2 separate regions of the Homo sapiens genome follow, and region 2 is linked to region 1. The links come from fine-mapping of genetic effects on gene expression. A gene starts in region 1. The other region holds a variant in brackets. All regions are shown on one strand. Distances are from middle to middle.

What was found. PIP is the estimated chance that this variant, and not a neighbour inherited with it, causes the effect. A credible set is the group of variants that fine-mapping cannot tell apart.
Region 2: its variant is the best candidate, but not a certain one, in a credible set for the expression of SLC3A1 in cerebellum (GTEx, PIP 0.52).

What each region holds. Positions count from the first base shown.
Region 1 is chr2:44,273,270-44,278,770 of GRCh38, reverse strand. It overlaps SLC3A1 (solute carrier family 3 member 1), which reads right to left and starts at 3,291. Exons shown (of 10, transcript NM_000341.4): 1 at 2,806-3,291. The coding sequence starts at 3,235.
Region 2 is chr2:44,351,845-44,357,108 of GRCh38, reverse strand. All of the region lies in intron 1 of PREPL (prolyl endopeptidase like), which reads left to right. Among named protein-coding and RNA genes, the nearest start is that of PREPL, 7.0 kb to the left of the region's middle. The variant G/A (reference allele first, on the strand shown) is at 1,975.

The DNA of each region.
Region 1 (5,501 bases):
GCTTGGCTGAGAAGACATGTGGAAATGAAACTTTGTATTTAGAACTTTGTAGGATAATGAGCAGATAATGTGTTTTCTCCTTCTAGTTCAGAGTCCCAAATGCATATTCAGCAACTTGAGTCTAGAATTCAATCTCCAGTAACTTTCTGTGTAATCCTGATGTGACTTCCTAGAATTAGACTGTCAGAGGCCACACCGCAGGCTGAAGGTCACTAATTCCAAAGCACAGAGTCATTCGACACCTGGGATCTGGGCTTTTCCCCTATAACACACTGCTTATTTATTTTATTTTATTTTATTTATTTATTTATTTATTTATTTTTGAGATGGAGTCTCGCTCTGTCGCCCAGGCTGGAGTGCAGTGGTGCGATCTTAGCTCACTGCAACCTCCGCCTCCTGGGTTCACGCCATTCTCCTGCCTCAGCCACCCAAATAGCTGGGAATACAGGCACCCGCCACCACGCCCAGCTGATTTTTTTTGTATTTTTTTAGTAGAGACGGGGTTTCACCGTGTTAGCCAGGATGGTCTCAATCTCCTGACCTCGTGATCCACCTGCCTCGGCCTCCCAAAGTGCTGGGATTACAGGCGTGAGCCACCACGCCTGGCCTGACAGGCTGCTTATTTCTGTCTCTGTACCCCAGTTCCCCCATATGGGTAGCTGCAAGATCTCACACGGTATCAACAGGCAGCAAGAGGGTTTTGATCTAAGCCAGCACAGCAACAAAATATATCTTATGATGAGGCACAAAGGAACATGAGGATGAAAACAAAGTGGCTGGAGAAAGTAAACAAGGGATCCCACCCCACATTTTAGAAGGAGAGAGGGCAATCACCAAAACCAGACTCAAAGCTGGAATGGGATCTTCATAATAACAACAATGAAATCCCTTCAACCTCAAAGACAAATGCCTATGGATTGCAGGAAGTAAAACATTCCTCCAAGAACAGGTATTGGAAATGACAAACATCAGAGCTGATTAGAAACCACCATGTTTACAGGAATGTTGGACCTATCCAGAAGGAGATTATTAAGAAGGCAGGGCCAGGAAGTGGTAAACATATCTCTGGATTTAGGGCTTTAGGTCTATGCAGTCAGAGCATTGCTTTTCCTAAGCACTCAATGTGCAAAAGGCAGCAGGTCATAGGTCATGAGTCAGGGGAAAGGGAGTCACTCAAGGCAGGATTAAAGGATGCTAGAAACACATCCAAAGCCGAAGATCTGGGGTGGGGAGCCCATGGTCTGATTAGGGAGGCTAAAGAAAGAGTAATGAAGGCAATGGGTTTGAGCTGCACCATGAAGGACAGATACACTCTTCTTCAATGAGTGACAATGCAGGATGATTTTTAAAACGAGAATGATACAGCCGGATGCGGTGGCTCATGCCTGTAATCCCAGAGTTTTGGGAGGCCAAGGGGGGGCAAATCACCTGAGGTCAGGAGTTCGAGACTAGCCTGACCAACATGGAGAACCCTCGTCTCTATTAAAAATACAAAATTAGCCAGGCATGATGGTGCATGCCTGTAATCCCTGCTACTCGGAACGCTGAGCCGAGAGAATTGCTTGAACCCAGGTGACGGAGGTTGCAGTGAGCTGAGATTATGCCATTGCACTCCAGCCTGGGCAACAAGAGTGAAACTCCATCACAAAAAAAAAAAAAAAAAAAAAGAAGAGAGAGAATGATAGGAGCGTGAAAAAGAAAAGCCTTCTACTAGTGATTAAAGAAAGCTGCAGGTTTCAAGAATTCATTTGTAGCATTTTAAAGATACATTAAGCCCATTCCTACTTTCCACATTCATATCATCCTGTTTTGTTTTCTTCAAACCAATTATCATTGTAAAACATTAGTTTGTTAGTTTCCTTATTTGTTTCCTATTGTTGCCTTGAAGTAGAGTGACCATACCAACCAATTTGCTCAGAAGTTCCCAGTGTATGCCTGCCATCTGGCATAATTTTACTCTGAAGTATGTTCTGGTTTGAGCAATATATTGTAAGGATGTTTTACACATAACCCACCAAGAAATTAACTTAGCTTTTAAAAAATAATTTTTCACTTTTTTTTTTTTCTTTTTGGAGACGGGGTCTCCCTATGTTGCCTAAGCTGGCTGGCTGAGAGCTCCTGGGCTCAAGCGATCCTCCCACCTCAGCCTCCCAAGTAGCTGCAACTACAGTCATGCGCCACTACCCCTGGTTAATTCTTTACTTGTTTTATACTAATACGGACATGGTTTTAAACAATCCTTAATTCAAGTAATGACGAATGCATACTGCTACCCCTTTTCTACTTCCCTTCCTTTTTTAGAATTTAAACTTTAAGACTCAGCCTATACTTTTTACAGATATCACTTGATTTTTAAAAAAATATTATTTATGCTTTATTCACTAATACACTCCCAGCCACACAGCCAAACTAGCTGCTTCGTATACTGGGAAAGCAATTCCCAACTGCCACCCTGACATATTCAACTATAAAGTCCCCAGAAACAGGACATAGATTTTAGAAGGAAGGCTGCTCTAAGAAGTTAGAATTGATGACTGAACAACTGTATGTACTTAGTGGGCAATAAATTAAACAACTCGTTTGGCTCAAAGGCCTTCAGCAAATAGCCCTTCAGCTAGTAAAATAACTGCTGGGTTCTGCTGAGTGATTTTCTAAGAATATCATAAACAAGGAGCAACTTGGCATGACCAGTCATAATGGAATGTGCTTACTGAACAACCCAGGCATAATTTGGTTCTGAAGAACAAAAGAACCATAAACCAATCTCATCCTGGCACCCACCCTAAATGATCTCTGGGCATGTACCTTTCAGATCTCCGTTCCCATCCTTGTTACTGTCCTTGAAAGACCTTGGGTAGATCTGGTACATGGGCCCCTCCTGCCACCAGTCTAGGCACTTTGGAGAGAGGGCAATGATGGCTATGGTGGCCGCGATGAGCACCAGCACAGAAGCCACTGTGAGCCAGAAGAGGATCTCCCGAGGTATGCGGTAGCGGGCCTGGCCAGAGAACTGGAACAGCACCTCCTTGGGCATCCCCGCATAGGGCTGGACGCCCTTGAAGTCGGGCTCCTGGGAGCCAAGGATGCCCCTGGTGCTGTGCTTCAGGTTGTCTGTTGAGCTTCCTGGATCCGGGGTCTGCTCCAGAATGTCTTCATTATGGACAAACCCGTTGTTTGTCTGGCATCCCTTCATACTCATCTCGATGGAGTCTCTCTTGCTTTTATCTTCAGCCATGTCTCACCGACTTATGTCTTCGGAGTGCCTTCCTGCAGTAAGGGAGGTGGAAGAGTGGCTTGCTGAATGCTTGGTCTTGTTAATGAACTTTGTGTGGTTTATAAATAAACCTAGCTGGACAAAGTCCAGCCAAGGAAGAAAGGGTAAAAGTACAGAGGTTTAAAAAAAAAATCTCGGGACTGGCGCGGTGGTTCATGCCTGTAATCCCAGCACTTTGGGAGGCCGAGGCGGGCAGATCACCAAGGGCAGGAGTTTGAGACTAGCCTGGCCAACATGGCCAAACCCCGTCTCTACTAAAGGTATAAAAATTAGCCAGGCGTGGTGGTGTGCACCTGTAATCCCAGCTGCTCGGGAGGCTGAGGCAGGAGAATCGTTTGACCCCGGAAGACAGACGTTGCAGTGAGCCGAGATCGTACCACTGCACTCCAGCCTGGGCGACAAGAGCGAGAATCCATCCCACAAAAAAAAAAAAAATCTCCACTGGGCATCTTGGCTCACACCTGTAATCCCAGCAGTTTGGGAGGCTGAGGCAGGCAGGTCACCCGAGGTCAAGAGTTTAAGACCAGCCTGGCCAACATGGTGAAACCCCGTCTCTACTAAAAATACAAAAATTAGCCGGGCGTGGTGGTGCATGCCTGTAATCCCAGCTACTCAGGAGGCTGAGGCAGGAGAATCACTTGAACCCAGGAGGCAGAGGTTGCAGTGAGCTGACATCGAGCCATGGCACTCCACCCTGGGTGACAGAGGGAGACTCTGTCTCAAAAAATAAAATAAATAAATAAGAAAGAAAATAAAAATAAAATGAAACTAAAAATAAATTAAAAAATTAAAAATTGGAAACAACCCAGGTAGCTATCATCAGATGGATAGATAAACAATGTGGTTATACATATAGTGAAATATTATTCAGCTTTGAAAAGGAATGAAGGCTGGGCATGGTGGATCACGCCTGTAATCCCAACACTTTGGGAGGACAAGGCGGGTGGATCACTTGAGGTCAGGAATTGGAGACCAGCCTGGCCAACATGGCAAAACCCATCTCTATTAAAAATACAAAAATTAGGCCAGGCGCGGTGGCTCACGCCTGTAATCTCAATACTTTAGGAGGCCGAGGCCAGTGAATCACCTGAGGTTGGGAGTTCAAGACCAGCCTGACCAACATGGAGAAACCCCGTCTCTACTAAAAATACAAAATTAGCCAGGTGTGGTGGCGCATGCCTGTAGTCCCAGCTACTTGGGAGGCTGAGGCAGGAGAATCGGTTGAACCTGGAAGGCGGAGGTTGCGGTGAATGGAGATCACGCCATTGCGGTCCAGCCTGGGCAACAAGAGTGAAACTCCATCTCAAAAAAAAAAAAAAAAAAAATAGCTGGGCATGGGGACATATGCTGTAATTCCAGCTACTTGGGAGGCTGAGGCAGGAGAATCGCTTGAACCCAGGAGGCAGAAGTTGCAATGAGCTGAGATAGCACCACTGCACTCCAGCTTGGGTGATGGAGTGAGACTGTCTCCAATACATAAATAAAGGACTGAAATTCTGACACATGCTGCAACATAGATGAACCTGGAGGACATTATGCTAAGTGCAATAAGCCAGACCCAAAAGGGCAAGTGTGATTTCACTTAGATGAGGTATCTTGAGTAGTAGGATTCATAGGAACAGAAAATAGAAACGTGGTTACTGGAGGTTGGAGGAAGGGAATAATGGGGAGTTATTGTTCATTGGGCAGAGAATTTCAGTTTGGGATGATGAAAAGTATTCCTGAGATGATAGTGGTGATGGTTGCATAACAGTATAAACATACGTAATGCCACTGAAATGTTACAGATGTTTTACCACAACTTTTTTTAAAGCTTAAAGCTTTCTCTATTTAGCCAGGTATAAGAAAAATGACTTTGGGGGGAAATTATTTTTCTTATACATGGTTAAATAGAGAAAGTGGGAAGATAGCTTAAGCCCAGGAGTTGGAGACCAGCCTGGACAATATAGTAACACCTCATCTCTACAAAAGAAATTTAAAATTAGCTGAACATGGTGGTGCACCCATGTAGTCCCAATTACTCAGGAGGCAGGCTGATGTGGGAGGATCACTTGAGCCCAGGAGGCAGAGGTTGCAGTGAGCTGAGATGAGCCGAGGAGACAGAGGTTGCAGTGAGCTGAGATCACGCCACTGCACTCCAGCCTGGGTGACAGAGCAAGATTCTGTCTCAACAACAACAAAAAGGAATGTAATGATTTATGATGTCCCTTTCATCAGGAGCACATAC
Region 2 (5,264 bases), 78 kb before region 1:
TCTGATCAGGCATACTGGCTCACGCCAGTAATCCCAGAACATTGGGAGGCCAAGGCGAGCAGATTGTCCGAGCTCAGGAATTCGAGACCAGCCTTGGCAACATGGCAAAACCCCAACTCTACCAAAAAGACTAAAAATTAGCTGGGTATGGTGGCGCACGCCTGTAATCCCAGCTGCTTGGAAGGCTGATGTGGGATGATTGATTCAGCCTGGGAGGTCGAGGCTGCAGTGAGGTTGAGGCACAGTGAGATCTTCAGCCTGGGTGACAGAAGGATACCCTGTCTCAAAAAAAAAAAAATAGGGAGTTTCAACTTGTCATTCTGTAGAAAGTCTTAGAGGTGCTAAAATTTCATGATTCTATACCTCTTGTTACCTTAGCAACAAATTACTGCCTAAAAGTTTGGGGACTCTTCAGTATCAACTTCTGCAGTCTAACTGTATATCAGAAATCCTGGAGAGCTTTTTAGAAATGCGGATTCCTGGATCTCACCCCACATCTGCGTAATGAAAATCTCTATGGTTGAGGCCTACACATCTGTTGTTTGTTTGTTTGTTTGTTTGTTTGAGACGGAGTCTTGCTTTGTTGCCCAGGCCGGAGTGCAATGGCATGATCTTGGCTCACTGCAACCTCCACCTCCCAGATTCAGGCAATTCTCCTGCCTCAGCTGCCAAGTAGCTGGGATTACAGGCGTCCACCACCATGCCCAGCTAAATTTTTTTGTATTTTTTAGTAGAGACAGGGTTTCACCACGTTGGTCAGGCTGGTCTCGAACTCCTGACTTCAGGTGATCCACCTGCCTCGGCCTCCCAAAGTGCTGGGATTACAGGAGTGAGCCACCATGCCCGGCCCCAGATCTGTTTTTTGAAGTTCACATCAGGTAATTCTGGAACTCACAACTTGACTGACACTGGACCTGAATTTAGAAATTGGAAATGTTTGATGATCAAGTGTTGCCGATCTAAACCTTATTGAATTCATTCAGTTCTGCAGTTCTTATTGGCAAGTACCTCTGCTTTCCATTTTACATTAGCCAGATGGCAAGATGAACTTACTCTATTATACTTACAAGCCAGCCAGTGATATTCAAAGACTAGCATCCATCCATCCAGATATCACATTTCTTTATCTTCCACATCATCCTGCTCTGCTCTGCCTAAAAAATAATTCCCAAAATCTTTAATAGTGATAATTTGAACAAGATACAAAATGAAATTGTATAATTAAAGAGAGAAGACTAAATCCTTTGGTTAAACATGTCATTTGCCTATTTCTACAATACAGGTTAGCAGCTCCTGCAATAGTCTCATATTCATATGTGTGTGTGTGTGTATATATATATATATATATATATATATAATATGTAGTTTTGTATATCTTGCAAAAAGTTTGAGCTACATCCTTTTAAGCAATAGAATGTTATTGAAAAATGTAGGCGCAATCAGATTTGCATTTTAGAAGAATCACTCTGACAGAATAGAGAATAAATTGGAAGTAGGAAGCCTTGTCAGTAACTCAGATGAGTGAAGATGAGAGTCTTTACAGGGTGATTGCTTTTTTTTGAGACAGTGTCTCACTCTGTCACCCAGTCTGTAGTGCAGTGGCACAGTCTCTGCTCACTGCAACCTCCACCTCCCAGGCTCAAGTGATTCTCGTGCCTTAGCCTCCTGAGTAACTGGAATTACAGGCATGTGCCACCACACCCAGCTAATTTTTTTATATTTTAAGTAGAGACAGGGTTTCGCCATGTTGGCTAGGCTGGTCTGGAAGCCCAGCCTCAAGCAATCCACCTGCCTTGCCCTCTCAAAGTGCTGGGATTACAGGCATGAGCCACCGCAGCTGGCCCTGATTACATTTTATTTGAGACATCTTAATGGAAGACTAGAGAGCTTGAGTGATAATTCCTCATCTCTTTGGATTCTAAAATCCAAAAGCCTGTTAGAAAACAAATGATTTTTTTTAACTGATTGGAGGCT[G/A]TTGAGAATGGGCAAAACCTGACCTAAACTGACACAAAGCTATTATGATCTTTATCCCAATTAGTAGATGTTTAGCTCTAAAATGTTACTGCATTTGATTAGAGTGTTGTTCCCCTGTAAACTGAGATAAGGTACCCAGTTAACATTCCAAAATCTCAAAATTCTAAAACGTACCTGGTTTATCTTTATGTTTCAGATGGACTTATTTCACAGTCATGTATGTAATCTTACTGATATTCAGATCTTAAGGGTGAAGAAGGCCGGGCGTGGCGCCTCACGCCTATAATCCTAGCACTTTGGGAGGCTGAGGCGGGTGGATTGCCTGAGGTCAGAAGTTCAAGACCAGCCTGACCAACATGGCAGAACCCCATTGCTACTGAAAATCCAAAAATTTTAGCCGGGCCTGGTGGCGCATGCCTGTAATCCCAGCTACTCGGGACGCTGAGGAAGGAGAATCACTTGAACCCGGGAGGTGGAGATTGCAGTGATCTGAGATCGTGCCACTGCACTCCAGCCTGGTGTGATGGGAGCGAGGCTCCATCTCAAAAAAAAAAAAGAGAGGAGGAAAGGATAAATATAACTCACTAGTAAAGTGGAGATTTCAGTAGCAGTTGGATATATGAGTCTGGAATTTGGGGAGAGTTGTTACATGTAGATAGTAGTTGAAGCCATAGGAGTCAAATCACTATATTTACCTCTCTGCTATTACTACATCATTTTAAACTTTTCCTGTCTCCCCATTATATTGGGAGGTCCTTAAAGACAAGAATTTTATAATACACATCTTGCCAGCACATAGCATAACGACTGCCACATTGTAGATAAGCAACGTGTTTATAGAATGAATTAATAGTTAAATTAATGCATTTTTTCTTTTCATATAACCATAAATTTTATTGCTAGAAAACATACCCCAGAAATCATCCCATCTGAGCTCTTTCTTTAGGTCTTTGATACTTTTTTTGTTGTTGTTGTTGTTGAGAGAGGGCCTCACTCTGTTGCTCAGGCTGGAGTGCAGAGGCACAAACATGGCTTACTGCAGCCTCAACCTCCTGGGCTCGTGCTGTCTTCCTGCCTTACCTTGCAAGTAGCTGGGCCCACAACTATGCCCAGCTAATTTTTTGATTTTTTGTGTGTGTGGAGACAGGGTCTCACTTTGTTGTGCGGGCTTGTCTCAAACTCCTAAGCTCAAGTAATCCTCCTGCCTCAGCCTCCCAGAGTGCTGGCATTACATGTGTGACCCACCATGCCCAGCCCTATGACCCATTTTGAGTTCATTTTGTTTATAGTGCAAGGGATTGGGGTACAACTTTATTATTTTGCTTGTGGATATCCATTGTCTGAGCAACATTTGTTGAAAAGAGTGTTCTTTTTCCATTGAATTGTCTTGGTGTCCTTTCTGAAAATCAACTGACCATAAATTCAATGGTTTATTCTTGACTCTCACTTTCATCTCATTTTTGTATATGTCTGTCGTTATGCCAGTACTACACATTTAATTACTATAGCTTTGTAATAAGTTTTATTTATTTATTTATTTATTTTTTGAGATGGAGTCTCGCTCTGTCGCCCAGGTTGGAGTGCAGTGGTGCCATCTCAGCTCACTGCAACCTCTGCCTCCCAGATTCAAACAATTCTCCTGCCAAGGCCCCCCGAGTAGCTGGGATTACAGGTGCCTGCCACCATGCCCAGCTAATTTTTTTTTTATTTTTAGTAGAGACAGGGTTTCACCATGTTGGCCAGGCTGGTCTCAAACTCCTGACCTCAGGGTGATCTGCCCAACTTGGCCTCCCAAAGTGCTGGGATTACAGGCATGAGCCACTGCGCCTGGCCTGTAATAAGTCTTAAAATCAGGAAGCGTGTGTATTCTTTCTAAACAAATGAAGAAACTAAAGCCACAGAGCCTAAAGTTAAGTAAGAAAACTAGTAGAGTCAGAAGTAGACCTAAGTTAGCCTCATTCACAGTACCTTTCTTTTTTAATATCTTGTAGTACAGGTAGACCATCCCTAATACAAAATCTGAAATGCTCCAAAATCCAAAACTTTTTTAAATAGAGACAGAGTCTTGCTATGTTGCCCAGGCTGGTCTGAAGCTCTTGGGCTCAAGCAATCCTCCTGTCTCAGCTTCCCAAAGTGCTGGGATTACAGGCATGAGCTGCCACTCATGGCCAGTGAGCATCTTTTCTTACACTTATTGATCCTATAGTTTTTCTTCTTGAATGCCTATTCTTGTCTTTTGACCTTCTTTTAATTGTCTGTCCTTTTCTTACTGATTCATAAGATTTCTTTACGTGTCCTTTGTCTTTTATATGTGCTGTAGATATCTTCTCCATATTTGTTCTATTATTATTTTTTTCACTTTGTGATATCTTTTGTTAAATATGTTTTTTTCATTTTATGTTTTATGCTGTCTGAATTTTATTCAACTCAGCAAATATTTGTTGAACACCTGCTATGCACCATTCTAGGCACTGGAGATATAACACTGAACAAAATAAACAAAAATCCCTGCCTTTGTGAAGCTTACCATCCTACTTGAGAAAGGAAAAGAGAAAGAATAAAGAATTACATGAACAAGGCTAGGTGCAATGGGTCATGCCTGTAATATACTTTGGGAGGCTGAGGTGGGCTCATTGCTTGAGCCCAGAAGTTCAAGAACAGCCTGGGCAACATGGCAAAACCCTGTCTCTACAAACAATGCAAAAATTAGCTGGGCATGGTGGCGCCTGTAGTCTCAGCTACTTGAGAGCTGAGATCAAGGATCAATTGCTTGAGCCCAGGAGGCAGAGGTTGCAATGAGCCGAGATCATGCCACTGCACTCCAGCTGAGGTGGACACAAGCAAGTCCTCATCTCTCAAAAAAATAAAAAGAATTACATGAATGAAATACAAAGTGGGTCAAAAGCGATAGTTATGGCGAAGAAGAAAAGAAAAAAAAGACGGGGAAGATGTGAATAGGCAGTGTGGGGATAGGGAGGGGTGTTATTTTAGTAAAATGGTTAGGAAAGGCCTAACTTAGAAGATGACATTTGAGCAATAGCTTTAAGGAGGTATTTGGGCATAGGGCCCAAGTTCTAAGAAACTGATATGGGAGCAAGCTTGATATGTTCAAGAAACATCAAGTATGGATTAACTGGAATAAGTGGGCTTGGCGTGTAGCAGTAGATTAGGTCAGCAATGTAATGGGACAAGATTCTTTAGGACTTTGTAGACCATTGTAAGAATTTTTGCTTTTCCTCTTGAGCAAGATGGGAAACCACTGGAGGGTTTTGAGTGGAGTAACATAATCT